Linked DNA regions of Homo sapiens: regions 2, 3, 4, 5, 6 and 7 are each linked to region 1. The links come from fine-mapping of genetic effects on gene expression. A gene starts in region 1. Each other region holds a variant in brackets. All regions are shown on one strand. Distances are between the middles of the regions.

The links. PIP is the estimated chance that this variant, and not a neighbour inherited with it, causes the effect.
Region 2: its variant is fine-mapped to the expression of CAMK1D in whole blood (TOPMed, PIP above 0.99).
Region 3: its variant is fine-mapped to the expression of CAMK1D in whole blood (INTERVAL, PIP 0.98).
Region 4: its variant is fine-mapped to the expression of CAMK1D in whole blood (TOPMed, PIP above 0.99).
Region 5: its variant is fine-mapped to the expression of CAMK1D in whole blood (TOPMed, PIP above 0.99). The same link has a PIP of 0.9 or more in atrial appendage, left ventricle, lung and neutrophils.
Region 6: its variant is fine-mapped to the expression of CAMK1D in whole blood (INTERVAL, PIP 0.97).
Region 7: its variant is fine-mapped to the expression of CAMK1D in whole blood (INTERVAL, PIP 0.97).

The regions. Positions count from the first base shown.
Region 1 is chr10:12,347,736-12,351,735 of GRCh38, reverse strand. It overlaps CAMK1D (calcium/calmodulin dependent protein kinase ID), which reads right to left and starts at 2,189. Exons shown (of 11, transcript NM_153498.4): 1 at 1,826-2,189. The coding sequence starts at 1,917. RefSeq lists enhancers at 1,041-1,200, 1,375-1,874 and silencers at 1,911-2,000, 2,171-2,730, 2,771-3,030.
Region 2 is chr10:12,241,747-12,245,746 of GRCh38, reverse strand. The region is part of intron 10 of CDC123 (cell division cycle 123); the gene reads right to left. Among named protein-coding and RNA genes, the nearest start is that of CDC123, 48 kb to the right of the region's middle. The variant TA/A (reference allele first, on the strand shown) is at 1,696.
Region 3 is chr10:12,157,321-12,161,320 of GRCh38, reverse strand. It overlaps SEC61A2 (SEC61 translocon subunit alpha 2), which reads right to left. Exons shown (of 12, transcript NM_018144.4): 9 at 3,216-3,413; 10 at 200-391. Among named protein-coding and RNA genes, the nearest start is that of MIR548AK, 29 kb to the right of the region's middle. The variant G/A (reference allele first, on the strand shown) is at 2,415.
Region 4 is chr10:12,657,822-12,662,091 of GRCh38, reverse strand. The region is part of intron 2 of CAMK1D (calcium/calmodulin dependent protein kinase ID); the gene reads right to left. Among named protein-coding and RNA genes, the nearest start is that of MIR4481, 6.8 kb to the right of the region's middle. The variant A/G (reference allele first, on the strand shown) is at 2,149.
Region 5 is chr10:12,263,845-12,267,844 of GRCh38, reverse strand. No RefSeq gene overlaps it. Among named protein-coding and RNA genes, the nearest start is that of CDC123, 70 kb to the right of the region's middle. RefSeq lists enhancers at 3,156-3,255, 3,130-3,668 and a silencer at 3,476-3,535. The variant G/A (reference allele first, on the strand shown) is at 1,950.
Region 6 is chr10:12,833,894-12,838,163 of GRCh38, reverse strand. It overlaps CAMK1D (calcium/calmodulin dependent protein kinase ID), which reads right to left. Exons shown (of 11, transcript NM_153498.4): 11 at 2,619-4,270. Among named protein-coding and RNA genes, the nearest start is that of MIR548Q, 110 kb to the right of the region's middle. The variant C/G (reference allele first, on the strand shown) is at 1,810.
Region 7 is chr10:12,386,806-12,391,075 of GRCh38, reverse strand. The region is part of intron 1 of CAMK1D (calcium/calmodulin dependent protein kinase ID); the gene reads right to left. Among named protein-coding and RNA genes, the nearest start is that of CAMK1D, 39 kb to the right of the region's middle. RefSeq lists enhancers at 1,785-2,285, 2,335-2,834. The variant G/A (reference allele first, on the strand shown) is at 1,708.

The sequences.
Region 1 (4,000 bases):
TTTTTCCCCAAGGTGGAAACCACCCACAGTCATCTCCAAACACCATGCTCCAGCAGGAGCCACAGCTTGGAGCCTCAGCAGCCCCGCCACTGCAGAGGTGCAGCTGCACGAGTCAGTCAGGGGACAGGGCATCAGTCACCCGGAGGCTACAGGCAGGAAGCCAGTGTGGGGGGCTCGGGTGGGAACAAGCCACGGACAGGAAAGCATTCACACAGGGTGGGTCCCCATGCTCTCCCATCTCCTCATTGGCGGCCACAGTGCGGGTCCTGGATGACAAGCAAAGGCCATGCTTTCTTGTCTCTCAGTAACTTGAGCATCTCAGAATCACAACCCCAAACCCGAATAAACCTCAGTGGCAATTTTCAAAAGTTTTGACCCAAACTAACCCCTTACCTGGCTGCACTAAGAGGCAACCCCAAACCCCTATTTATTAAAAAGCTACATCTTTTTCTGTTTTCATTCCAACAAAGATAGCAAATAGGTGCCCTCCCTGAAAGGCAACAACCACAGCAGGGAGACCCCACTCTAGTCCTCAGCGTGCGCCTTCCCGGGAATCAGAAGCAGGACTGGGAAAGCCACCCTCACAACTTCTCTCCGGGGGACCCCCTGCAGATCTGCGTGGGGGTGAGGGGAAATGACTGAACAGCAGCAGACGCCGAGCCTGGAGGTGAAGACAAGCTGGGTAATGTGGTGCTGGAAAAAAGAAACCAAGCACAAAAACAAGCACACGGAAAAAAAGGAGGAAGGAAAGAAAGGGCACCCAACAACGCACTGATTTATCCCATGAAATAGCTCCCCTTTCTCTTCCCAGCCTAATCAACACCTCCATGAACCCCTGCAAAATGGGCATTTCTGACTGCACACCTGTGCGTGAATCCACACTGACAGATACTGATGCAGAGCAAATACTGATTGTGTGAGGGAAGGAAATAACTTGAACTTCAGACTCATTCGGCAGGTCCTGATTCTCTTTCACTATCAGCCTCCCCACCTATTCTGAGCCGCTCCGAAACAAAACAAACAAGACCCAACTCCTGGGCAGAAAGGGAACAGCAGCTGAGCTGAGCAGCACATGCTTGGAGCGTTCCTGCCATCGACTTCGGATTATTTCTGCTTTCTTGAGACACAGCCATCAGCATGGGACTCGATGCAGCCCGGAGAGAGCACCGCCCGCGCAGCGACGCGCACAGACCCTCCCTTGGAGACGCGCTCCCCGGCGCGTGCGGCCGAGCCCGCGTGAAATGCACAGACCCTCCGGTGAGGCTCTGCCCACGTGTGACCCTGAGCACTGCGAAGCCCTTCCCTTCCATCCTCGCGTGGCCACCCAAAGTCTTGCCTACACCTCGTACGTGCAGATGCCAATTCCATAGAAATACATGATGTAAGGACAGAAATGGGAACGACTGGAGGCTGATCTTCTCGTGACCACGTCTCGCCAACGCGGTGCGCCCATGCACACGGCGAGTAAACGCACACAGCCGGTAAACAGCCATCCCCACCATGCTCAGCCCACAGTCACGCGTGGGGAGAAGGCAGCGGAGAGGGCGGCGGTGGCAGGAGAAGTGGGAAGTCGCGCGCCCGCGTGGGCTGCTCCCTGACAGCCCGGCGCTGCCCCCTCCCCCTCCCGGGAACGGCGCCCACCCGGGGGTCGCAGGCCCACGCGTCGGGCGCGCTCGGGGGGGCTCCGCAGCGCCGAGAACGGGACAATGAGGACGCGGTGACAGGCTGGGTTTCTGCCGCGGTAGTGGCGGCGGCGGCAGCTGGAGCTGCCCGTGCAGCCCCTGCCGCGGCCACCTCCACCCTCGCCTCCCCGGTCCCCACTTACGTTCCGAGGGTCTCTTTGAACTCGAAGATCTTCTTGATGTCTTCAGCTTGCTTTTTCCAGGAGGAGCTGCTCTCGCCGTTCTCCCGGGCCATGGCCGACGAGCGCGGCGCGGAGGAGCGGCCGGGGGCGCGCTGGGGAGGGGGCGCCGGGGGCGCGGCGCGGGCGCAGAGGCGGCGGGGATGCCGGGCGGCTCGGGCTGCGGCGCAGCTTCCTCCTCTGCAGTTTCCTCTTTCGCTCTCGCCGCCGCCGCCGCGGCCGCGGTCCCTCCCTGGCTCTTATTTCTGCTGTTCTCGGGCACAGACTTCCTGCCGCCGCCGCGCGCCGGCTCCTTTGCCGCCGCCTGCCAGCCTCACTTTCTGCTACTTTCTTGCCTCCCTCCCGCTCCCTCCCTGCCGCCCGCCGCGCTCCCCCCCACCTCGCGCCTCCTCCCCCTCCTCCCCCTCCTCCCCCTCCCGCGGGCTCCCCGCCCTCTCCGTGCGCCCCGGCCGCTCCCCGCCTCCAGCGCGCCGCCTTCGGGGATGTCCCGCTCCCCTCCCAAGAGCGCCGGGCCACGGCCGTCGTGCCCCCTGGAGCCCCGGCGAGGGCGGGTACGGGCCCCCGGCAGGTGCGGGGCGCACGCGGGAGAGCCCCAGCCCCTCCGGGAGCTGGAAACGGAGCCCAGTCTGGGGGCGCCGGGGCTTTCCCGTCTCCGGCGGGAGGGGGCGCCTCTGCGTGGCTCGGAAGCGCCGGGCGGGCGGGGGTGCGCGGCGGCCGGATGCGGGGCGCCGAGGGCGGGGCGCCTTCCCGCGCTGTGGCCTGTGGCCCGGGGGACCCGAGGGGCAAGGCGTGGGGTGGGGGGGGTGGGGGCCGGTTGTTATGGCGACGGGCGGCGGCGGCGGCTGGGATGGAGGCGGAGGCGGGCGGGAGCTCATTCGCATTGCACCAAATCGGTTTCACGTCAGTTTCGGGACAGACCCGCGAGGAGCAAGCCGGGGAGCCTCTGGGCGGGTACGCGCAGGACGCGCCAGCAGCTGCCTCGTGGTCCCTTTGCGAGCAAAACTCCCGGGGGTGTTTGGCAGCCGCGCGGGCGCCCTGGTGCTGGGCTGGAGCGGCCGGCGGGCCTGGCCGGCCTGGTTGCCCTGGCTCACGCTTGGCCCCTTCTGGCATCTCCCTGTCTCCTCCCAGAGACTCAGTGGAAAGAAGTGATCGTCTGCCCCGCAGTCCCCTCGAAGGAGGAGCCCACCCGCGGCTGGCTTAGTAGGGTGTCCGGGTTGCGGGGCAGGCACCTGCTTTCCTATGGACTGCCAAAACTAACCCAGAGAATTCCCTCCGGACTCCCATCTCCCAGCTGTACTTTGGCCTGCCCGCCCCACTCCTGGTGTCCACCTGTCAGAGGGCAGCCCACGTGCTCCAGTTCCCTGGTCCCCAACCTGCAGGGGCGACCTCTTGATCGGAAAATTTTAGATTTCTTGGTATCAACACTTCGCCTCCCTCAGGGCCTCTCCTCGTAGTTGGGTAAACAGCTCTGTCTCTTGACTGGGGACACCTGTCCCATTTTCCCAGGACTGTTCCAATTTCACTGTAAAAGGAAAAAAAAAATCTGCTCCCTGAATAGGAAACTTCATCCAGCACCTTGTGCCTAGTTCTGACTCTGGCTGAAGTGGAGGCAGCCCAGCTGCTCTCCCTCAGCCCCTACTCTGACCCTAAAGAGGTCAGACGACACCCTGGCATCCCCATTCCTGGGACCTCCATGCTAGTTTCCATCTTTCAAAGACGGTTAGCTTAAGGTTTTCCAAACTGAGAAGAGCAAAGAGGGGATTTACTTGCCGGTTAGATGTAGAATAAATCCACAAACCCAATTTCCAACACGGATGGGTGAGAAGAATTACTAAGGAACCTCTCTTATACTTGAGGCACATTACCAAAGTTCAAGGCAAACAGCATCCCCTTCAATAAGAAACATTTGAAAAACTATCATGTATTTTACTTGTGCCAAAGGTTAGATAATACAAACAGTGGGAACCAGGGCATAAGTCAACTAAGATCCCAACTGTCGCTTTCTCATGCCTACAGTCAGCATCTTCTTGTCCTTTCTTTCTCCTTCCCTTCCTCCCACTGTGTTTCCTTCTCCTCTTTTCCTATTTGGTTCTCTGCTATGTTGCCCTTGCTGCCTGGCCTCAGGAACAGCCGCCAGAG
Region 2 (4,000 bases), 110 kb after region 1:
CACTTATTTCAAAAGATCATCTGTCTATATCCCATCTGAGAAAGGGCCGCCTGTCTGAATAGACAGAGATCTAAAGGGAGGGCCCCCTGTGAATGAAGAGAGAAGGGACCCAGTAAAGCTCTGCCTAAGAGATAACGTTCCAACTCCAGCCTCAAGCCACAGTGGAACTTTAAGTCAAAGATTCCAGCAGGGCCGGGCATGGTGGCTCACACCTGTAATCCCAGCACTTTGGGAGGCTGAGGCGGACAGACCACTTGAGCTTAGGAGTTCAAGACCAGCCTGGGCAACATGGTGAAACCCCATCTCTACAAAAAAATATAAAAATTAGCTGATTGCGGTGGCAGACGCCTGTAGTCCTAGCTACTTAGGGGGCTGAGGTAGGAGGATTGCTTGAGCCCAGGAGGTCAAGGCTACTGTGAGCCGTGATCAAAACACCACACTCCATCTATCCTGGGTGACAAAGCAAGACCGGGTCTCCAAAAAAAAAAGAAAAAAAGATTCCAGCAGGAAAGGGAACTGTCACCCAAAGGCGAAGGGTCTGCGGTCTGACCAAAGCGTCTTCCCGGAGCCTTCAGTGCTCTGTTCAGGGGGAGCCGGACGGAGCCAGGCAGTGCCTGCGACTCCAGAGAGCAGCGCTTCTGACTCGGGAAAGGCTGCTGCCAAGGGTGGATTTTTTTACCATATGCAAGGATGAAGATGCTGGGTTTTTTTCTGTGGTTTTTGTTTGTTTTTTGTTTTTTGTGAGAGTCTCACTCTGTTGCCCAGGATGGAGTACAATGGTGCGATCTCGGCTCACTGCAACCTCCGCCTCCTAGGTTCAAGCGATTCTCCTGCCTCAGCCTCCCGAGTAGCTGGGATTACAGGCATGCGCCAGTATGCTTGGCTAATTTTTGCATTTTTACTAGAGACAGGGTCTTACCATGTTGGCCAGGCTGGTCTCGAACTCCTAACCTCAAATGTCCTCCCACCTTGGCCTCCCCATGAGCCACCGTGCCCAGCCTGAAGATGCTGTTTTCTTTCTATGTGAATGTGGTAAGTGTTCCGTCTGTACAATAGAGCTTGACAGCATATGAAGGGGACGTAAAAAAAAAAAAAAAAGAAAAAAGAAAAAAAAAAAACCACCCCAACCTCTGAAAGAAATGTCTACCTTGTCCTGTTCTGAAACCACAGGTGGGCAATTTGGTGACTCTCCTCAGGGAAAGGTCACCTTTGAGCTGGGGGCACTGTGCTGAGGTAGGGCTGGGGCCTCTGAGCAGAAAACAGCCAGTGCTGACACGCACAGAGCGGGGGCACAGGGGCTGCGCCGCCAGGAATGACGGCCACGGCATCCGATCACGAACACCTATTGACACGAAGTGGATGGATGTTTCCTCGAAAGGTTTATCTTTGCTCCTTTTCACTTTTCTCACTGAAACATTCATATATTTGTGCCATCTGGTTAATAATGAATTTGTTTTTTTCTATAAATGTGTTGCCGCCATGTCCTGAGCGGGTGTGTGTCTGTGAAATTCCAAGCAACAAGACCGCTGAGCCAGCATGCCTAATATCTGGCACTGTTTCTCAGCTGAGCGAGAGCAAACTGTTAAGAAAGATGCAACATCTAATTAGGACTTGCTTCAAATACCAGAACCTCCAGTTAAGTGGCACAGGCCTGTCGCAGGATGTTTTCGCAGGATGTTTTCAGCACAACCCATT[TA/A]GGTAAGTTCCTCATTTTATACAAGCCCCAGGAGAGGCCCTGCAAATTTCTCACCGCTTGAGTTGTTTCCTCACCTCCATTTGGCACCCACTTCTTCATTCCTGGAACTATGTGAAACAGTATCAGCCGTCAAACAACTTCTTGGTAATGATGTCAACTTTATTTTGGAGAATACTGCTAAGATGTCTTCAATATATGTCATGATACAAAATGGACATTTTCTAACCTCCAAATCTTTTCTACTTGACTTTCTTTTTTTTTTTTTTTGAGATGGAGTCTCGCTCTGTCACTCAGGCTGGAGTGCAGTGGTGCGATCTCTGCTCACTACAACCTCCGCCTCCCGAGTTCAAGTGATTCTCCTGCCTCAGCCTCCCAAGTAGCTGGGACTACAGGCGTCCGCCATCACGCCCAGCTAATTTTTTGTATTTTTAGTAGAGACAGGGTTTCACTGTGTCAGGATGGTCTCGATCTCCTGACCTCGTGATCTGCCTGCCTCAGCCTCCCAAAGTGTTGGGATTACAGGCGTGACCCTCTGTGCCCAGCCTCTACTTGGCTTTTTATAGTCAGTAAAACTAACTCATTTTTTTTTAAACAATCACACTTTTAATATAGGAATATGCCACAATGCAAAAAACCAAACCACATTTTTTCCTTTTTTTTTTTTCACTCTTGTTGCCCAGGCAGGAGTGCAATGGTGAGATCTCGGCTCACTGCAACTTCCCCTTCCTGGGTTCATGCAATTCTCCTGCCTCCACCTCCTAAGTAGCTGGGACTACAGGTATGCACCACCACGCCTGGCTAATTTTCTATTTTTGGTAGAGATGGGGTGTCACCATGTTGGTCAGGCTGGTCTCCAATTCTTAAACTCAGGTGATCTGCCCGCCTAGGCCTCCCAAAGTGCTGAGATTACAGGCGTGAGCCACTGTACCCAGCCCAAAACACATTTTTAAATGAAAACAAACCACCACTGTTAATTGGTAGTGTACTCTGTAGCTCAGAAGCTATCCTCTAGTACAAAAAAAAAGAGTTTAAGTAAATTAAAAAAAACCCAGCTGTAACTTCTATAAACTAGGAGGATCAGGATCAGGATTTTATAACTTTTTTTTTTTGAGACAGAGTCTCGCCCTGTTGCCCAGGCTGGAGTACAGTCGCGCGATCTCAGCTCATTGCAACCTCCTCCTCCTGGGCTCAAGTGGTTCTCCTGCCTCAGCCTCCCAAGTAGCTGGGATTACAGGCGCCTGCCACTGTGCCTGACTAACTTTTGTATTTTTAGTAGAGACGGGGTTTCACCATGTTGGCCAGGCTGGTCTTGAGCTCCTGATCTCAGGTGACCTGCCTGCCTCAGCCTCCTAAAGTGCTGAGATTACAGGTGTGAGCCACCACGCCCGGCCATAACATGTTTTCATGTGACATCTCAAGCACAAACAGCCTGAGAAGTTAATTCTGCTTTGAGGCAATCCAATAAGCAAAGAGCAGTCGGACTAACTGTCCTTGTACCAGCTGACTGTCTCCCTGCCCCGATCAAGCTCTAGGGACCAGACACTGTGTTAGGCACTGGGCATGAAGATCGTAACACAAAATCGACTCCTTCCAAGAGCTCAGGCTTGAGCAGAACACACATCTCCACTTCCCCAAAACAGAACCAAAAGCCATCCAACAATGGCAATGTGCAGGGTATTTTGCTTCAAGAGAGGCAAGAACAGGGAACTGTGAGAGCGGAGAGGCACACAGGAGAGCCTGCCTACATGTGCGAGGGAAGGCTGGAAATGCTTCCCAAAGGACCTGGGCACCTGAGGGATAACAGAGATGCCCTGGGAGGAGGGTGGTGTTGGCAGGAAAAGCGGACCACTTAACAAGAACGACGGCTCTCACGTACAGAGGCCACGCCACGACCGCCTGTTGCGGGAATAGGTTATTTTGGCTGGAGTGTGAGATATGTGAGGGCTCCTGAAATACAGCCAGCTATGTAACTCTCAAGGCTTGCTGTTCCAAACAGGATGAAACACATGCTACGACAAGCCGTTTAAAAGTGTAATTGAGATTATGAGAAAGACCGGGAAATCCCCCGGGGCCAGAAACAAGAACCCGAAGAACAGAACTAAGCCTATCAACTCTAGTGCTGTGGGAACCCGTGGGAGGGTCTCCTAGCAGCCTGGCCACAGGAAGGGAATCAGAACTCAGACACAAACTCCAGAAGGCGACAGTCTCAGGAAAGGGAGTGTGAGGAGACAGTTCTAATGACAGGGCAGGACACAATGACTGTTCTTCTCTGAATGAGTTTTGAGGAACATGGTAGAAGCAAAT
Region 3 (4,000 bases), 190 kb after region 1:
GGCTTGCACCACCGTGCCCGGCCGATTTTTATTTGTATTTTTTTAGTCATGACGGGGTCTCGCTATGTTGCCCAGGCTGGTCTCAAAACTCCTGAGGTGAAGCGATCCAGCGGCCTCAGCCTGCCAAAGTGCTACGATTACAGATGTGCGCCACCATGCATTGCCAAGAGTTTTATTTTAAAATAAACCAAACACTTACATCTTTGGCTGAGGAACCAGACACTTCAATCCATGTCTTAGAGAAGAATGCACATGACCCCAACATGAAGATGATATAAACAACGACATGGACAGGATCCTCAAAGATGGCGCCCATGGACTCAGGAGGAGAAAGATAGTAACAAAGGCCTCCAACTGGGTAAGAACGTGCGGGTCCTCCCCCACTGACATCCTACAGAACAGGAGTACAAAGAACAAGTGGTCAACCTAATTAGTCAGGAATACATTTGCATGTCACTTCAAACTTCTCAGAAATGACAGTGTTTTAAGTTCAAGGCATCTACAGCTAGTCATTCTATGTAGTTTCAGAATGTACTTTTGTGTCTACTACCTTCACTCCTTCAAAGTTATACGATGAACACCTATTACATGCAAGACACTGTGAAAATATTGAGTCATTTTTAAAAATTGTAATATATTACAAAATCTTCCATTACTGAAAATAGGAATATGATTACATTTACAATCAACCTCTGATTATACTTAAAATCTGAAATTTTCTGAGCTATGAGAGTATCCAGTCAGTACATTAAGATCCCTATGAATGATCCTTCCATATGAAAATATTAATGCAATCAACTAAAATACTGACATAAGACTTTAACTTGCTGCCTAGACTTTATGTGGTTTCTATGTTATAAGGAGCAATCTTTTAATAAATATAATAATTGGATTTTTATCTATATACTTAAATCTTACAGAAATAGGAACAGCATTATTTGCTCATATTAAATAAAGTTTTGGGGTATACAGATAGGGGGTGAGAAACCAATTTTTAGTTGCGATGATTACAGTATCTGGTTCTTGAATTTATGACTGCCCAATGATTTCTTTACTGTGCCCCTAGAATCATTAATCCCAGATCAAAAGCACTATCTCCCAATCATTCTCTCATTCAGAAGAATCTTACTCAAAATCATAACACAAATTGTACAGGACCAACTACTCAAAGCACTATCACTATGACATTCTGATCAGAGTAATAGCTGCTGCTGGACTATTCTAAGGAGGGCAGAAACAGCATTCTTCTTATTCCTGTCTCTTGACTTTCCTGTCCTCGATATAATATTAGCCAGAATACAACAGAGATCATCACATTTCTCTTAAATGAATGGGAAAGAAGTATTATGAATAAAGGGAATCCTATTCCCTTCAACTAATATATGAGTTACTGTCTTATTATCTTAAAAAAACCTTTTTTTTAAATGACATTCAGTAAAAGCAGAAAGGTATGAGTCTTTGTAACTTATAATGCAAAAAAAAAGCATATTAAGACAAATGCACAGAATAAACACCATATTTCAAGAATAACTGTACAGAAAAATACTATTCTTTGGTGGGGTGCAAATTCTAGAATTACCTACTGTGGCAAAGAATAAAGGACATTAGTCTTTTAAAATTCTATTATTTTTGAGACACGGTCTCACTCTGTCAACCAGGCTGGCATGCAGTGGTATGATCACAGCTCACTGTACCTTCAAACTCCTGGGCTCAAGCAATCCTCCCAACTCAGCCTCCCAAGTAGCTAGGACTACAGGCACGTAACACTGTGCCCGGCTAGTTTTTAAGTTTTTTTGTAGAGATGGGGTCTCGCTATGTTGCCCAGACAGGTCTCCAACTCCTGGCCTTCAAGCTATCCTCTCTCCTTGTTCTCCCAAAGTGCTGGGATTACAGATGAGAGCCAACACGCCTGGCTAAAATCTATAATTTTAAGAGGGAAAATACCCCTTTGTTAGGTGACAGAATTTAAACCAATGAAAATTCAGTCCCACAGTAACTCACGCTTCAATAACAGCGTGGCTAGATGGCTTTAGAAAAAATTATGGGCCGAGTGTGGTGGCTCACGCCTGTAATCCCAGCAATTTGGGAGGCTGAGTCGGGCAGATCACAAGGTCAGGAGATCGAGACCATCCTGGCTAACACAGTTAAACCCCGTCTCTACTAAAAATACAAAAAATTAGCTGGGCGTGGTGGCGGGCGCCTGTAGTCCCAGCTACTTGGGAGGCTGAGGCAGGAGAATGGCATGAACCCGGGAGGCGGAGCTTGCAGTGAGCCGAGATCGTACCACTGCACTCCAGCCTGGGCGACACAGCGAGACTCCGTCTCAAAAAAAAAAAAAAGAAAAAAAAATTATGATGGGGGATGTATATGAGAATGTATAGGATTATATTACTAGCAGCACCGCTGTCTCTACC[G/A]TCTAGTTAATAGCATGCCTATCTCTAGCCCAGCTCATCACAAGCTGGCTTATTGCCATTCAGACCATGAAAAATGGAGGAGGCCTGGAGGCAGGGTGGGAGATAGGAAAGGTTAGGATGAGTCCAGTATCTCACATGTTAGCAGCAGCAAATAGCATTTTTTGTTTTTATTTTTTGGAGACGGAGTCTCGTTCTGTCGCCCAGGCTGGAGTGCAGTGGCGTGATCTCAGCTCACAGCAACCTCCATCTCCTGGGTTCCAGCAATTCTCCTGACTTGACCTCCTGAATGGTTGGGACTACAAGCACCTGCCACCACACCTGGCTAATTTTTGTATTTTTAGTGGAGACGGGGTTTCACCATGTGGCCAGGCTGGTCTCGAACTCCTGACCTCAGGTGATCCACCCACCTCAGCCTCCCAAAGTCCTGGGATTACAGGAGTGAGCCACCGCACCCAGCCAGCAAATAGCATCTTTTAGAAAGCATTATTGTAGACAATACTGGAATAAGATGACAAAATAGGAAATTACTTTTATGAAATCAACCACAATTTTAGCTTAAAAGGTCATTCAAATGAGATGTGAAAGTGCTTCCTAGAGAGCAAAATAATAAAAAGCGCTTGGGCAATCTTACTTCTGCAACACTTACCAGTTCTTCCAGATAAGTACTAAACTCTGCTATATAGGTAAGTGAATCTGAAAATACAGCAAATGCTCCAATGTCGACCTCATTCCATTAAAAATACAACCATGAAATGCAAATTATAATAAACTATAAATAATGTAAATAAACATAATACTCACGGCCCACTGTCCTAGTAAATTTACTAAAAAGTTGCCACTAAATCGAACAGACAGCATCTGGGAAATAACATACAGGTTGGACACCAGGGCCGACTGGAGGATGATGGGGATGTTGGAGGTGTAGAAGAGTTTGATGGGGTAGCTGCTGTACTGTCCTCGGTAACGGGCCGACTTAATGGGCAGATCAACGCGAAATCCCTAAAAAAGGAAACGGAGAGTAAGTGGGGGAGCCAGACACATTAAGAAAAGAACAGAGACCAGAGAGGGAAAACAAAGAACAGTGCGGGGGATGAAAAGACAATGCCGGCCGGGCACAGGGGCTCAGGCCTGTAATCCCAACACTTTGGGAGGCCGAGGCGGGCAGATCACGAGGTCAGGAGATCGAGACCATCCTGGCCAACGTGGTGAAATCTCATCTCTACTAAAATACAAAAAATTAGCTGGGTGTGGTGATATGCACCTGTAGTCCCAGCTACTCAGGAGGCTGAGACAGGAGAATCGCTTGAACCCAGGAGGCGGAGGTTGCAGTTAGCCGGGATTGCGCCATTGCACTCCAGCCTGGCGACAGAGCAAGACTCCATCTCAAAAAAAAAAAAAAAAAAATTAGCCGGGCGTGGTGGCACGTGCCTGTCATCTCAGCTACTCAGGAAGCTGAGGCAGGAGAATCACTTGAACTCGGGAAGAGGAGGTTAGAGTGAGCTAAGATCGCGCCACTGCACTCCAGCCTGGGCAACAAGAGCAAAACTCCGTCTCAGGAAAAAAAAAGAAAAGAAAAGACAATGCTA
Region 4 (4,270 bases), 310 kb before region 1:
GCATCAAGATAACCATGACGTTAATCAGCTGGCTTCAATTGCTCTCTAGCTGCAAACCTAGCAGTACTATCATCTAGCCTGTGTTTTACCATCCCATCCATAAGGAGACAATTAGATGCTTTGCAGAAGTAGAATTCTTCAGCTCTACACACCACATAATACTATTTAAAAGGGAAATGGGATGTTCGGGAAGATTTGTTCTTAGTAACCCATGTTAGCTCCTAGCAACCACTACAGTCTTTACTAAATGATCACAAACCATCTGCTTAATTTTCTGTTCCAGAATTTTGCTGTGCATTGAAGTCAAGCTTTCCAGTCTATAGATCTCATCTTCTACCCTTTATATGTTTGGGAATTTTGACAACCTCTCTTACATTGTTTTCTCAAACATTTCAGCTGTGACTCTTCTGTGATAAGTGCAATTTCCTCAGTCCCCTGGGATGTCACAGATCTAAACCTAGTGATGAGCTAATTTTATAACTTTTGTTAGGCCTTGCTTACATTGCTGTTTTATTGTACCATTTATTGTTAACTATGTGTTAAGACTGCACTAAGTATTTTTAATTATTTCATTTACCATTAACAACAAGCCCATGAAGTAGGTATTATTTTCTCAATTTTTAAAAGAGGAGAAAATAAGGAAGGAGACTAAGATCCCATGAGGCTAGGTAAGTATTCCAAGATCACAGAACTCATAATTGTCATTGCTGAGATTCAATCTATGTCTATTCTCACTCCCTAGCCCATGTTAAAGCAATTACGCTATAACTTAACTAAGTTATGAGACTATCCAAGAGCTCATATAAATTCAGTTATTTCTATAAAATTAGAATATCTAAAGTCAAAGTATTAATGCCATCATTAACAATATAATATCCACTTCTGTGGGTGCAGAGATTTGTTGAATTATCTTGAATCTAGTGGATGTGCTCAAGATACTCGGTTGTAAACATCCTAACAGATGAAATTCCAGTGGGTCAGACAGAATCAGAAAAAGACATGTTGAAAAGCAGAAGGAATAGGGAGAAGTCCAGAGTAATTAGAAAGAGGTTCTCCTTAGCCCATATCTGCTAGTGTCATCAAAAAAGAGAATCAACTGAACAGAGAAAAGAGGCAGAGATGTCAGTTATAGGCAAATGGAAAATGGAGATTCTGTCAACTAGCACAGCGAAATCCCAGAGGTCAACACTCTTTCCAAAGTATGGCCAAGAGGATCTTCATCCATAAGGGATGTTGACTCTCAAACAGCAAAATGTCCTGAAATGTGCGTAATTCAAAGCCATAATAATGTCACTGAAAACAACTTCAGGTGATAAAAAGAAACTCAACTTAATTTTCATCACTTATCATTTACCAGGCCCAAAGTAAGCATGAGCTGACACATCTATATACAGAGAGAAAATGGTTTATATGGCAACCTACATGAAAGCCTCCATAATCTCCAATAATGCACAGAAATGGTAGAGGGAAGTGGGTCCAGGCAGAGAGAGTCAACTTGAATGGGAAAAAAGCACATGGGCATTGAAGCAGACTTCTGTCCATATAGTAACTGACAGCCAAGCAAGAAAACTCCAGAAAAAGCCAAGAAAACATTTTAAAATTAATTCATGCATAAAAAATAACTGATACCAAATGTACAAACAGGCCCCGTTACAAAGCCCCCAAGCTTTGTAAGGGAACATCAGGACCCAAAGGGTCAGCCTGCTACTGACTACACGTGCTTCTGTGGAGTGAGAGTAACATCTTCCCCTCCAGCCTCATGTACCCCAGTTCAAGGATTCACAAATTTTTAACTCCATGGCAAATGAGGAAAATTTAAGAAAAAGAAAGAAAAAGCAAAGCACAAAAGAGAGGAGAAAAAAAGTTCAGCATTTCTCACTTTTTCCATTCGATCATTTTACTGATCTGCAGGGCATCCCTGGAAGCAATTATGAGGTAATTCAGAGGAAGCAAAAGACCACAAAATGCCTTTCCTTGCTATTGCCATTCTCTAGTAATGGGCATTGACCTACTTAGGTTATGAACGCCAGATGAAGACAAGGGATGTAAGAAAATACAATCGGAAGGGAGAGACAAGAGTGAAACTGATTATAAGAGAGGATGAGGTGGGGATAGCGAGGCACAGATTGCCCTGCAATGTGCAAGGAG[A/G]AAGTTACGTCAACGAGCCGCAATCAGCTTCCGGTCCGCTTTTCAGGCACTTCCGGGTTTACAGTCTAGTCTGGGAAAGGCCTCTCTCCGCAAGCAAAGGCCATAGAGGACCAGGTCTTTCACTACCCACCATTGTCACTCTAAGCAGCCCAGAAAGCTGAAATTTTATTCACACAAAAAGAGAGGCGTGGTTCCCTGGCATGGAATTGCCTCAAAAGTACTTGAAGAATATTGTGATGTCTTGGCAAACCCTCCCGTTTATCTAAGTAAACGCTTATGTTTTTTCGAAACTGAAAAAAAAATCATTTCCTCCTTACTAGGGTCAAATTCTTGTTTTCTCACATTATAATCAGTGTGGGAAATAATGCTGAGAAAATTGGGATATTGTCAGTCACAAGAACAGTGATAGCACTGAAATATTGGCCAGATGGTATTAAAAGTAATACCTTTCATTTTAATAAACAGGCACATTGGCAGGTGTTATTTCATTCTGCAACAGCCTTATAAAGTAGGCATTATTATTCCTATCTCACAGATGATCACTCACAGTTTATAATCACTTAATTGTTCTCCCCAACTCCCTCTGGTCTCACTCTCTTCCTATCCATTTTCCGTGCTGTCTCCTGAGTGATCTCTCCAAAATATAGAACTGATAAAACTTCTTAGCATGAAATCCAGCACTGGCTCCCTGTAGTACAGGAGAAAGTTCAAACAACTGGCATGGCTTACAAGTCACTTGTTACTTGTGAAATGGGAAAAGTTCCCTTATCCCACTTGCAGGGTGTGCGACAGGGGGACTGGCTCACGTTCTCAGTGCCAGCTGTTGATAATCCTAGGGGAGCATGCAGACGGGCAGGCTGTGGGCCTCCGACCCCACAGCAGCATCTGGGGTGAATGCTTACAGCTTCCGAAGCCCCAGTGGGCATGTGTTACAGGGTGCTCTTTTAGTTTTGCCATCTGTAAGCAGCTTGTGTTAATCAGCTCTATTAGACCCTCTGCCTTATCACAAGGACAGAGGGCTTTCTGTATCCTGGGGTTCTTGCCTTGGTGTACCGGAAAAATCGGATCACACGTGGGCTTGGAGAATGAGTGCAAAGTTTCTTATGGAGTGGTAGCTCTCAGTGAGGTGGAAGGGGAGGCCAGAAGGGGAATGGAGTGGGAAGGTGGTTTCCCCTGGAGTCATGCTGCCCAGCGGCTGGGCTCTCCTCCAACTGCCCCAGCCAAACTCCACGTCCTTCTGCTGGTCAATGGCCTGATGGTGTCTTCTGCTGCCTGTGGGTCTGCCGGTGCATTCCTCTTGATGTCCAGCCATTTGTGTGTGTGCCCACTAGGGTCTCAGGGTTTTTATAGGCACAGGATGGGGACATGGTGGGCCAGGGTGGTCTTGGGGAAGGCAACATTTGGGCACAAAAACAGAAATGCCTGTCCTTACCTAGTTTTGTGCACATAGGCCTGGGGGTGGAGCACTAGGCATGGACCATGACTTTCCCTTTCCCAAGCACTTCCCTGCCCCCCTCCCCTATCACTTGGTCTTTACTTGCCCATCCCACATCATCTTCCACCCTGCCCCACACCAACATTTTACTGAACCCCGGCAGGTCTCGCACACCCCGCCCTCCCCAGCCATGCACACCTTCGTCTCTGAGTGTGCTCATCACTCTCCTGTCTTCTTACGAAAATACTCATCCTTTAAGACTCATTTCTCTATCACCTCCACTGAGAACCCTTTGCTGTTTCTCACAGCTTGCAGCACCAATCACCTTTCCTCTGGGTCACCCCAGTTCTTTGTTTTTTTTGAGACAGAGTCTCATTCTGTCACCCAGGCTGGAGTGCAGTGGCACGATCTCGGCTCACTGCAACCTCCACCTCCTGGGCTCAAGCAATTCTCCTCTCAGCCTCCCGAGTAGCTAGGACTACAGGTACGTGCCACCATGCCCAGCTAATTTTTGTATTTTTAGTAGAGACAGGGTTTCACCACATTGGTCAGGCTGTCTCGAACTCCTGGCCTCAGTTGATCCGCCCGCCTCAGCCTCCCAAGGTGCTGGGATTACAGGTGTGAGCCACCGCACCTGGCCCACCCCAGTTCTTGGATCACCTTGCTGTCTGTACTGCATTGTATCCA
Region 5 (4,000 bases), 84 kb after region 1:
GCCGGTCCTGGTGGTGGGTGCCCGTAGTCCCAGCTACTCCAGAGGTTGAGGCGGGAGAATGCCGTGAACCTGGGAGGCGGAGCTTGCAGTGAGCTGAGATTGCGCCACCGCACTCCAGCCTGGGAGACAGAGCGAGACTCCGTCTCAAAAAAAAAAAAAAAAGGCTGGGTGTGGTGGCTCATACCTGTAATCCCAGCACTTTGGGAGGCCGAGGCAGGCAGATCACAAGGTCAAGAGATTGAGGCCATCCCGGCTAACAGGGTGAAACCCCGTCTCTACTAAAAATACAAAAATTAGCTGGGCGTGGTGGCACGTGCCTGTAGTCCCAGCTACTCGGGAGGCTGAGGCAGGAGAATCGCTTGAACCCGGGAGGCGGAGGTTACCTTGAGCCAAGATTGCGCCACTGCACTCCAGCCTGGCGACAGAGTGAGACCCCGTCTAAAAAAAAAAAAAGGCAAAACAGATACACAAAAATAGAAAATCTAAATGGTTCTATATTTATTTATTTATTTAAGTCTCTCTCGGTCGCCCAGGCTGGAGTGCAGTGGCGCGATCTCGGCTCACTGCAAGCTCCGCCTCCCGGGTTCACGCCATTCTCCTGCCTCAGCCTCCCGAGTACCTGGGACTACAGGCACCCGCCACCACGCCCGCCTAATTTTTTTGTATTTTTAGTAGAGACGGGGTTTCACTGTGATAGCCAGGATGGTCTCGATCTCCTGACCTCGTGATCCGCTGGCCTCAGCCTCCCAAAGTGCTGGGATTACAGGCGTGACCACCGCGCCAGGCTATATATATATATTTTTTAATCAAATCTATAATAGAGGCCTTTCCTAAAAAGAAAAAAAAAGCCTTTTGAACATATATATTGCAGAATTACATAGGATTACATTTCTACACCAATTATATTGCCATTTAAAAATATTTCTCACTTGGTTACATAAAAATATTATTCTACAACAGTGTAATATGCATTTTTTATTCTGTCTTGAACATCTTTTTATATATTTATTGTATATTTGTGTTTTTTCCTTTATGAATTGCCTGTATAACATCCTTAACCCAATCTTATTTTGTTTAATTTTGAAGTCCTTTTATTTGTATGTTAACTATATTAAGCTTTGATCTGGCATATTTGTTACAAATTTTTTTTTCTATTAGTTTGGCTTTTGATTTGGTAAATGACATTTTAAAACATGCACTTGTTTTTAAATTGTATTTGAAATTTTTAAAAAAGAATAGTCTACCTGAGAAGACCTCTGAGAAATATGATTTTCCATCTCATTACAGCTCCATGACACTGTAGCGTGCCTTACAGATTGGCACCGCTAACAATTATACAGCGAGCTGGTCTACCTCTCAATGCCTCTTGATCATGAGCTCTCAGGAAATGACAGCTCCGGGAATTAATATCCAGAAGACGAGTCTTGGCCGGGCGCGGTGGCTCACACCTGTAATCCCAGCACTTTGGGAGACCGAGGCAGGCGGATCACAAGGTCAGGAGAGCGAGACCACCCTGGCCAACATGGTGAAACGCTGTCTCTACTAAAAATACAAAAATTAGCTAGGTGTGGTGGTGTGTGCCTGTAATTCCAGCTCTTTGGGAGGCTGAGGCAGGAGAATCGCTTGAACTAGGGAGTCGGAGCTTGCAGTGAGCCGAGATCGCACCACTGCACTCCAGCCTGGCGACAGAACGAGACTCTGTCTCAAAAAAAAAAAAAAAAAAAAAAAAAAAAAGCCTCTGGGCCCACCTCTTCTCTTCAGGGCTCCTACAGATAACACATTGGTCCTGGCCACTAAAATGTCCCAATGCCAGCTGAGAGAGGAAGATAAGAACTGGCAGGCCCCCCTTTCCTCTGGAAGTTGTGTCATATTCTGTGAACTTGGCCTCAAGAGGGAGATAAGAACTGGGTAAGGCTCACTTCCCCACGGAGATGGTTTCATGCCCAGTA[G/A]ACACTTGCCCCGAGTCCGGAGAAGCAGTAGGTGCTTTGCAAATATTTACCTAGCTACATGGCAACCGGGCAGTGCTGTCAGAGTTCTGTGTCATTTCTGGGCCACACGCCCCACACCCCATTCTCTCCTCTTGCATTACAAAGGCTACGTCCCTTCCCACAGCTACCTTTCCACAAGTGTTCAAAACCACGTGAAGGTCAGACTCCTTTGATTTCTAAATCATGCCCTTAGCCAAGATTGAACTTCCAATAGAGAAAATTTTAGGTTTGCTTTCATGTGTGAGGTGAAATGACTGTCCCTTTGTCAGAGGCGTTTGAACCAGAGCAACTCCATCTTAAACAGGAGCTGGGTAAAATAAGGCTGAGACCTACTGGGCTGCATTCCCAGATGGTTAAGGCATTCTAAGTCACAGGATAAGATAGGAGATCCGCACAAAACACAGGTCATAAAGACCTTGCTGATAAAACAGGTTGCAGTAAAACAGTGGCCAAAACCAACATGGCGAGGACAGTGTCCTCTGGTGGTCCTCACTGCTACACTCCCACCAGCGCTATGACAGTTTACAAATGCCAAGGCCACATCAGGAATTACCCTGTATGGTCTAAAAAGGGGAGGCATGAATAATCCACCGCTTGTTTAGCGTATCATCCAGAAATAACCATAAAAATGGACAACCAGCAGCCCCCTGCGCTACTCTATCTATGGAGTAGCCATTCTTTTATTTCTCTACTTTCTTAATAAACTTCCTTTCACTTTACTCTATGGACTCGCCCTGAATTCCTTCTTGTGCGAGGGTCTCTTGGGGTCTAGATCGGGACCCCTTTCCGGTAACACCTTAGATTTAAGAGTTCAGGTTCATCCTTCCTTTGTCAGGAATAAGTATCATAAGCAACACAGCCTTTGCTTGTTGCTAGTTCTTTTTTTTTTTTTTTTTTTTTTTTTTTTTTTTTTTGAGATGGAGTCTCGCTCTGTCACCCATGCTGGAGTGTAGTGGTGTGATCTCGGCTCACTGCAACCTCCACCTCCCAGGCTCAAGCGATTCTCCTGCCTCAGCCTCCCCAGTAGCTGGGATTACAGGCGCGAGCCACCGCGCCCGGACACAGCCTCTGCTAGTTCTGCCACTGATCTTCCCACAGGTACATTAAGGAAACTCAGTGTTTGGCGCTTAAACAAATCAACAACAACAAAGCATGGTAGAGAGAAGGCCCAGAGCACCACCCTCCCACGCTGTCCCTCGGGAGCTGAGGGGAAAACACCCAATGCCTTCAGAGACCAGCTGCACTAAACCGCCTTCTCAGAATGAGGGAGGAGCTACTGGCTTGGGGATGTCTCCAGAGCACATTTCTAGAAACACTTGAGAATACGAGAGAAAGAGAATACGAGAGGAAGGCCTAGGTCACTGAAAGCACAGGGAGCAATTTAGGCTTTTGTCTCGGTGTAAATGACATCGTGAGCCGTGCCCCCGCCCCTGCTCGTGGCCTGAGGGCCTGGGGGAGGGCGGGCATCCACCTGGCACTGGCGGCCTCGGCCTTCACCGCCGCACGCGCGGCGCCATCTTGTGGCCCATCCCTTTCCCAGGCTGGAAGCAGCCACAGGCCGATTCTTCCAGCCTTACAAATTCTGTGAAGTACAGTATTTAGACTATTTTTGATTAGTTTAAGAAAACAGCATGGCCAGGCGCGGTGGCTCACGCCTGTAATCCCAGCACTTTGGGAGGCCGAGGCAGGTGGATCACCTGAGGTCAGGAGTTCGAGACCAGCCTGACCAATATGATGAAACCCCATCTCAACTAAAAATACAAAAATTAGCCAGGCGTGGTGGCACACGCCTGTAATCCCAGCTACTCGGGAGGCTAAGGCAGGAGAATCGCTTGAACCCGGGAGGTGGAGGTTGCAGTGAACTGAGATGGCACCACTGCACTCAGCCTGGGCAACAAGAGCGAAACTCTGTCTAAAAGAAAAAAAAGAAAACAGCATTATGCTCAACAAATTAACGCAGAAACGGAAAACCAAATACCGCATATTCTCACTTATTAAGTGGCAGCCAAACA
Region 6 (4,270 bases), 490 kb before region 1:
CCTTCCCTATTAAGGGCTGCTGGTGAAATGAGACATTGAATGGAATGTACATGGCACAGTGTCCAGGACACAGTAAATGGTCAATACGTGATGGTGTTAGCTCCAGAAGTTATTGTTGATGACAATGACTCCCGTGCCCCTCCAGCCCACCTTTCTCTCTCCTCCCGGGTTTGCTCACACCCTCTGCTCTGGCCCGATGAACTATGGACTAGCCCACCGAATGCTGCATTCCCAGCCTCCAAGCTCTCCCTCACATTGCACCTATTCAATCCTTCCTGTCTAAACTCTCCCCTTCCTCCCAGGCTTACTCGAGTGCTTCCTGTTTTATGCAGTGTTCGTGGGTAGGATTCATGTCAGATTGACTTTGGTGTTTTTCAGCATGAACGAAAACCCTTGGATATAAGGGGTGTTCACAAATGTTGAGTGAATGAAGGAGGGAATGAATCAATGAATGAAAGCTTATGACTGTGTTTGGTGGAAGGGCACTGATGGGAGCCTGTAGGGGGAATAGATCAGGGAGGATCTGTGGGTTCCGAGGGCGCTAAGGTCTCATGTCATTGCTGCCAATCGTCCTGAATGAAAGGCAAGACTTCCTGGGTTTCTTGGTGAAGTGAGATGGGGAGGCCAACCCATTTTCTACAGTGTGATGTCTAATGAACTCTGTAAAGTGCTTCTATATGCACCAGCCCCTTAGTGATAGTTTCCTGAAGGTTAATATACTCTTCAACTCGGACATCCCTACACAAGAGGCCAGATGAACTCCCTCAGAGCCTGCTCGATTCTGAGCTCTTAGCTGAAGTTTTCTCCAGCTTTGAAAACCTGATAAAAAGTTGCAGTTGGCCCACAGCTCACAGCCTAATGCTCACGGTCCGCTGGGCCCACCAAGCCAGCAGGCCCCCATACAGTGCCTTTGTATGAACTGGATGGGGAAAAAAAAAAAAAACATCTTTTCCCCTGAGCCAGGGTGCATGGCTTGGCATGCAGGATATGGACTGGAAATCACACCTCACCACTTCCCTCAGCTTGAAGCCCCTTACATGGTACATACACACATACATACTCTCTATGTTAGGAAGAGAATGTGAAATTGGGGTGCTCTTTTGGGAATTACACATTCTGGGGGCTCAGCACAGGTGTTGCAACCAAGTAGTATGTAAAATATGAGGCTGGGCACAGTACCTCTTGCTCAGTCTTTCTTGAGCTAAAGAGCACTGGTCCAAGCCAAGTGTATACATATGCCTAAGACCACATCCAGCCCAGCCAAATTACTCAACATGCAGATGAACTTACGGAAATCTGTTATCAGAATCTTTCTCTATGAAACAGAATTATTATTATTATTATTATTTTTGAAAGAGCCTTACTCTGTCACCCAGGCTGGAGTGCAGTGGTGCGATCTCGGCTCACTGCAACCTCCAACTCCTGGGTTCAAGCAATTCTCCTGCCTCAGCCTCCTGAGTAGCTGGGATTACAGGCGCCCACCACCATGCCCAGCTAATTTTTGTAGTTTTAGTACAGATGGGGTTTCATCATGTTGGCCAGGTTAGTCTCGAACTCCTAACCTTGTGATCCGCCCGCCTTGGCCTCCCCAAGGGCTGGACTACAGGCATGAGCCACTGTGCCTGGCCTATGAAACAGGATTTTGATGGCATAGTCACTCTCCTTGGGGGCAGAGAGAGTCAGGGGGATTTGGGTGCACACGATTTGTATCTCCTTTTTTGCCATCAAAATGTTATGTTCCATAAAACCTGCAATAACGACATCACATATTCACCCACTGAATGATAGCTTTGTATTGATGCAACTCAT[C/G]ATTAGGGTCTGGGCTACAGAAGCAAGAATCAACCACAAAAGAACTAGACATCAGACAGTGGGCACTGCCTTTCTTTTGGGCTCATAGCCTTTTTTCAGTAAGGCCCACCCATGCTGTTTTCATCTGATGCTGGCTGTGTGGGACAGTTTTAATTCTACATTTCTATAACACATGTCCAATTCATTTTTTTCTCCCTACACAATCCCTATTTGGATTGGAAGAATTGTCTGGCCATCAGACCCGAGCCCCACAATACATTTGATGAGCTATGAACTGTAGTTCCTCCTCCTGCATCTCCCCCAAACCCCCACAAAAGACAGCAGCCAGCCTTCTGCCTGGAAAAGAATCTTCCTTTGGGCACTGCTATGCCGAGGAAATGGAAGAACGTGGGTGTGTATTGCTGAAGCCTGAGGCTGCCAAGCCACCCATGACTCAGAGGCGCTTCCTGGGGATCAGCATTGGCTTTTCCTCCACATGACTTAGGAATATTGAGTTAGTGCGATTTGAGTTCCCAGGCTCACCTCCAGTCCCCCTCTGCAGCAGCAGGGAAAAGGGGGAGCTTTCCTGTCCAGTGATCATGGAACCTGGGCACCTGTCCCCAACCCCAAAGGCACGATGTACCATCCCTTCACCCATCCCTGCCACTCCCTGCTCACTGGGGAGGTGACCTGAAATATTTAAGGGGGACTCCATGAGTTTGGGGGGTCTCAATTCAAACTCCTTCCTTCAAATCCAAACTTCAGGAAGCAGAGGAAAGATAGAGACACTGAAACTCCACATCCTTCTCATGACAGAGGAAATGAGCATCTGAAGGTGATTAATTGTCTTTATTGGAGGAAAACAGGAAGTCATCAATCTCATTATCATTATGATAGAAATCTTGATATGTATACATGATTGTCAAGGCAGAGAATCATTTGCTACATAGACCCATGAACAATTTTGCAGTGCCGCAAACCTATGTGGGTTAAACTTCTTGCAGAGTTTATTACATGCATGGAATAAATTCACAGTTTCCCTTCTTTTGGACAAACATGTTTTTATGGGAAAATTGAACCAATTGCAAGCCTGGTAATAGTAGATGCGGGGACATTCCTGGTTTTGATGTTGTAATTTTTTGGGAAGCATGCTCACTGTTGGGGGAGCTGAAAGAAGGGAGATTACATTATGTGTAGTGACAAAAGCCAATTGAGAGATTGTTCCAATGTTTATTCTGGACAGAGGGTACCTTTGAGGTCTTCTCACCTGAACGTGGGACTAAGATAAATGTTCTCTGAAACATGGCGCCCCATCTTTCGAAGCAAAGACTCTGCTGCATGCAATGTCGCTGCATTTCTGCCACCATTCGGACAGCATTTCATGTCCCTCTGATAGGGCCAAGTGCCCCGGGAAGGAGAGTGGCAGGTGTCAGGGCTGAGAGACAAACATCCGAGCTGATGTTCTTGTTCCTTTTTAGCTCTCTCGCAGCCTGGCTGCCAACCACGTCCCAGGGCCCCTGTGCCCTGAAGTGCAGGGCTTCCAGGAGAGCCTGGGAATCTGAATCTGTCTAGATTAAGATTTTCCTCCGAGAAGCAATTTAACTAGAGTTTGGGGTTTCTGAGCCCCTGCTGAAGTCTTATCTCTAAGAGTAAAACCAACTCCTCCTCATTTTCTTTTTTCCTGTCCATAAGAAAATAAAATCACCTTTAAAATAACATGGCAAATCATCAGAAGACATAATAATCGAATGAGAAGTTCCCCGGAGACAAAAAGGTTAAAAAACGGATATGGCGAATGCAGAAGCGGTGTTATAGTACAAAGGGTGAATGCAACCGTTTGTCCCTTTATACAGACACCGAGAAGCCATTCCACAGTTTGCTTTGTCCACAAAACCAGACTCGGCAGCCGCATGCTGAGCGTTTGGCTTCCAAATGCACAGCCTTTTTGGGTTTGCAAAAGCGGAGCTCCCAGAGCCACAAACTGAGCTGCTCCTGCTGGAGGTGGCGGGGAAGTCTGGGAAGGGCTGACTCCTTCCCACTGACTCTGGAGGCATCGGGAGGTGGCCGGGCCTCGGCCAGCATGCAGGACTGACTTCACAGTGGGGCTGGGGGCCCAGAGCTGCAGACCATGATGCCCCGGGACCACCGAACAGGTGCCAGGTGAGTGGGGCGTGGGCCCTTATCTTCCTCAGACCGCCTGCCTGCTCCCCAGAGTTGAGGTTGTCAAGCTAACTCATCTGCACACTCATTTTCTTGGAGTCTTCAGGAAAGAAACCCTCCTTTTAGGAGTCTGTTTGAGCTTTTCTATCTCCACATTTTCAATTCTGAACATCGAAAGACTGGAATATCTTTTGCAAATGTCAGGCACACCTGCAGCCCCAACCGAGGACCAGGTGCCCCTCAAAAGGGTGGTGGATCACATACAGGTATATACATCTTTTTTTTTTTTTTTTTTTTTTAACAAACTGAACAGTGTTTGGTC
Region 7 (4,270 bases), 39 kb before region 1:
CGAGAGAAGACAGTGTTGGCCCAACACTGAGCTCTGGAGTTTTTGCCAGAACTGAGCTTGGACCCCTTCCCACCTCCTACTCACTCAATGCTGGACTCTGAGCACATTAGTTGACCCCACACAGAATCTCATCAAGTTGATTCATAAAGTCAGGACTATGCACAGCATCCTCTTATTCACGCACGCTTGAGCCTGAGTTCATTCTGAATCTAGTGGGCCAGAAGGATGGCTCCGTGGGGACAGCTGGACCCGTATTCCAGGCTTGGATAGGTGACTCGCTCACTAGCTGTGTGATCTCAGGCAAGTCCCTCAACCCTTCTGGGCTCCCCTTTCCTCTTGGGTCCTTTACACGTTCGACTAGAAGCTTCTGCTCCCACGTGACATGACCCAAGGGGGAACACACAGACTGGAAACAGGCAGGCTGCACAAGTCCCGGAGCTCATGGTTAGCCCTGGCCCTGCACTCTTACCTGGGTTTTGCCTGGGCACAATGGACCCTATTCTACCCTCAACTAGTTGTAGGATCTTGAATAATGGGGCTTAACTTTCTGTGCCTGATGATAAAGACAGTTTAGAGACAGACGCAGAGACAGATATAGTGACAGAGATAAAGACAGAGACAGAGCTAGAGATACAATGTCTCTTCTAGCTCTAGAATTCTACTTATATGAGAAATTCCTTCCATTCTGAATAAAACAGAAACTAAGGTTGAGCAAAGTGGCTCGTTCCTATAATCCCAGCAATTAGGAAGCTGAGACAGGAGGATCACTTGAGGCCAGGAGTTTGAGACCAGTCTAGGCAATGGAGCAAGACCCCATCTTTTTTTTTAATTTTTAAAAAATAGAGACAACTACTTTATAGTTCTTCGGCCACTGGTGCAAATCACTAGCAAATGCAGTATGAAAATTTTGCATCAGCCTAGAATAAGGACACCGTGCAGTACAAGCGCTTTATAAAAGGTAAAAATATGGGAGACACAGGACTATTCATTCCTCCAGAACAGTTTATTGGTCATGCACATGTCCTCAAATTAAATTCCCCCCAAGATCACCAGCCACCTCCAAAAGTTAAACTCACCTTGCCCCATGGGGCAGGACCTCCCATGCACAGCACAAAGATGACCCACAGGAAAAATAGCCTTCTCTTTGAGGCTCAAGGAGATGTTCTACTACAAGTGCCTATGATGAATTCATCCCTTCCACTGACCTAAATGCAGACAGAAGGCATCAAAAAAAAAAAATCAAATGACAATCCAAAGCCACAGATTTTGTGACCATTTTGCTCTCAATCCTATTCCCCAAAAAGGAAGCACCTTCAGACAGTAGGTGACAAGGACACTGTGTCCAGAGAGGGCGTTTTCATCTAACTACAACTTTCAAACTCACGGCCATTAACATTCACCCAAAATAACTGGACGGTCGCCAACCAGGAAAGGGCACGTTACTAAAACCGGCCCTCCAGCCTCCGAGAGGCTCAGCAGAATTCTGCTTGCTGTGAGTAGGGAAGGAAGCAAGGTCTGTTTATTCTGCCAACGTGCAGAGAGGCACAGTAACTAGGTCACGTTCTCACTCAGGCCTGGATGAAACCACCTGGATGCTCCAAGCCCTCGACCCTGTGGTGCTGGGCAGAAGCTGAGTCTCCTGCACTGAGCACCTCTCCTTGAAGCCTGAAGACACCTCTGGCCACGCACCCCAAGGAGAGCAGTGTC[G/A]GGATGGTCCCAGAATCCTTGATGTCCCAAAGAGCCTGTCCCAAGAGCAATGGGCAGAACATGAGCCTTGGTCTAGGCACAGACCCGGGGCTGGCACGCGCCACCGCCAACCACCTGCCACCCAAGCCCCTCAGCCCCCTCTGCAGGGAGTTTAAGCAGTAACTGACCACACACACCCCCACGCCACCCTAGCATAGAGAACACTTAAATCTGGAGCTGGTGGAATCACCAGAAACCCAAATAATTAGCCTCTCTCTAAGCAGAAGCTGATGGAAGCTCACAGTTGACCCATCTCGCCTCTTCCTCCAGACCTTGGACAGATCGGACAGGAAGGACCTTCCATGGAGTATGGTGGTGTCTCCATCAGCTGCGGGATGTAAATCACACAGACGACACGACAATGTGCTTCCCAAGTGAAATCGCAAGCCACGCCTTTACCGCAGGCTCATCAAGTGTTTTCCTCCAACGACAGGCTTTCTAGAACAGCACGACGTGCCTCCAGGGGAGCGTGGTAACAAAATCACATTCGTGCTGCATCTCACGACTTCCTAAGCGGTGGGATGGTTTTCCCTTCACAGCAGACAAACCTCGCATTGCCACACAGTATCTGAAAAACTGCTGGAGCCTCTAGCCCCAGGTAATGACGGAGCTGTCTTTGAGCCCCGCAGAAGTCTCCCAAGTAGGCATTTTTAACAATTTATTAATTTGAAACGCATGTCAGGTGCGATGTGTTTTTGCTCTTGCCTTTTAACCTCTGCAATTAGCAGACAGGTATGTTTTCTTGTGCCTCTTAACAGCCCCCAACAGAGAAGACAAAACACTCAGACTGCCAAAAACATTTCCTGGGCCAAGAAGGCACACCAGCGTAGATGAAGGCTTTTTTCTCTGCTGTAAACCAGTTTTTGCCTCTGCTCTAAACCTCGACACTCTTATTGACAGACAGAGAATCTAGAAGCTGGAGTCTGGGGGAAAAGCTGAAAGCAAGAAAACTGGTTAAGTTTCAAGGTTGATTCGGGGAGAATTCGACAGTAACAAGGGCTTGGGCCGGGCACGGTGGCTCACACGTGTAATCTCAGCACTTTGGGAGGTCAAGGCCAGCGGATCACCTGAGGTCAGGAGTTCGAGATCAGCCTGGCCAACATGACAAAACCCCATCTCTACTAAAAACGCAAAAATTAGCCAGGTGCGGCGGCACACACACGCCTGTACTTCCAGCTACTTGGGAGGCTGAGCCAGGGTCTTCTTTGGTGAGCGCATTTCTGGAGACGATCCCAGAAGCCTCCTGAGAGTCACCTCAACCTACTCAAAGAACAAGCAAAGATGCCTGGCTGGCAAGATGCCTACAGAAAGGGAGGTTCCCAGGGGAGAAAAGAGCTGAGGCTTCTTCCCTCCCACAGTGGGCTCCATCTGCTCACTCACTCATGACAGCAACTAAGCATTGGTGGGGCGCCAGCAGGGGCGAAAGGGAAATTTTTGAGCCCAGTCTTTCACAATGAATAAAATAGTTCAGAACTTACATCCCGATAGAGGATAGTTAGCATTTATTGAGCAATTATTATGACATAAAGATACACACACAGGCCAGGTACGGTAGCGCATGCCTGTAATGCTAGCATTTTAGGAGGCTGGGGTGGGCGGATCGCTTGAGCACAGGAGTTTGAGACCAAGCTGAGCAACATAGCGAGAACCCATCTCTACCAAACAAAATACAAAAATTAGCCAGGGTTCCAGCTACTCAGGAGGCTGAAGTGGGAGGGTCACTTGAGCCTTGTGGGTGGAAGTTGCAGTGAGCCGAGATTGCACCACTGCACTCCAGCCTGGGCCACGGAGCCAGACCCTGTCTCAAAAAAAAAAAGCAACCGAGATACACATAATATAACTTTCATTAAGAGTTTACAATGTCTATATATATATATATATATAAAATATATATAATATATAAAATATATAAAATATATATAATATATAAAAATATATAATATATATAATATATAATATATATATTATATATATAAAATATAATATATATATCTCAAACTCAATGAAAGTTAGCCATTATATATTATACATATAATGTGAGTGTCAAAGCGTGAAGGCTGTCACTACTCTATGAATAGCAATAATTGTAAAATGAAATATGTAACGGTAACTTTTTTTTTTTTTTTGAGATGGAGTCTCTCTTGGACGCCCAGGCTGGAGGGCAGTGGTGCAATCTCAGCTCACTGCAACATCCGCCTCCTGGGTTTAAGCAATTCTCCTGCCTCACCCTCCTGAGTAGCTGGGACTACAGGTGCCCGCCATCACACCTGGCTAATTTTTTTGTATTTTTAGTAGAGACGGGGTTTCACCATGTTGGCCAGGCTGGTCTCAAACACCTGACCTCAAGTGATCCACCCGCCTCAGCTTCCCAAAGTGCTGGGATTACAGGCGTGAGCTACTGCGCCCGGCTGAGTAAAGTTATCTTCGTAGTTCTACATTATTATTATTTTTTATTAAAGTATCAAAACATTATATTGTATGTGAATTTACTTCAAACTTCTTTTTCTGCTAACTAGTACATGAT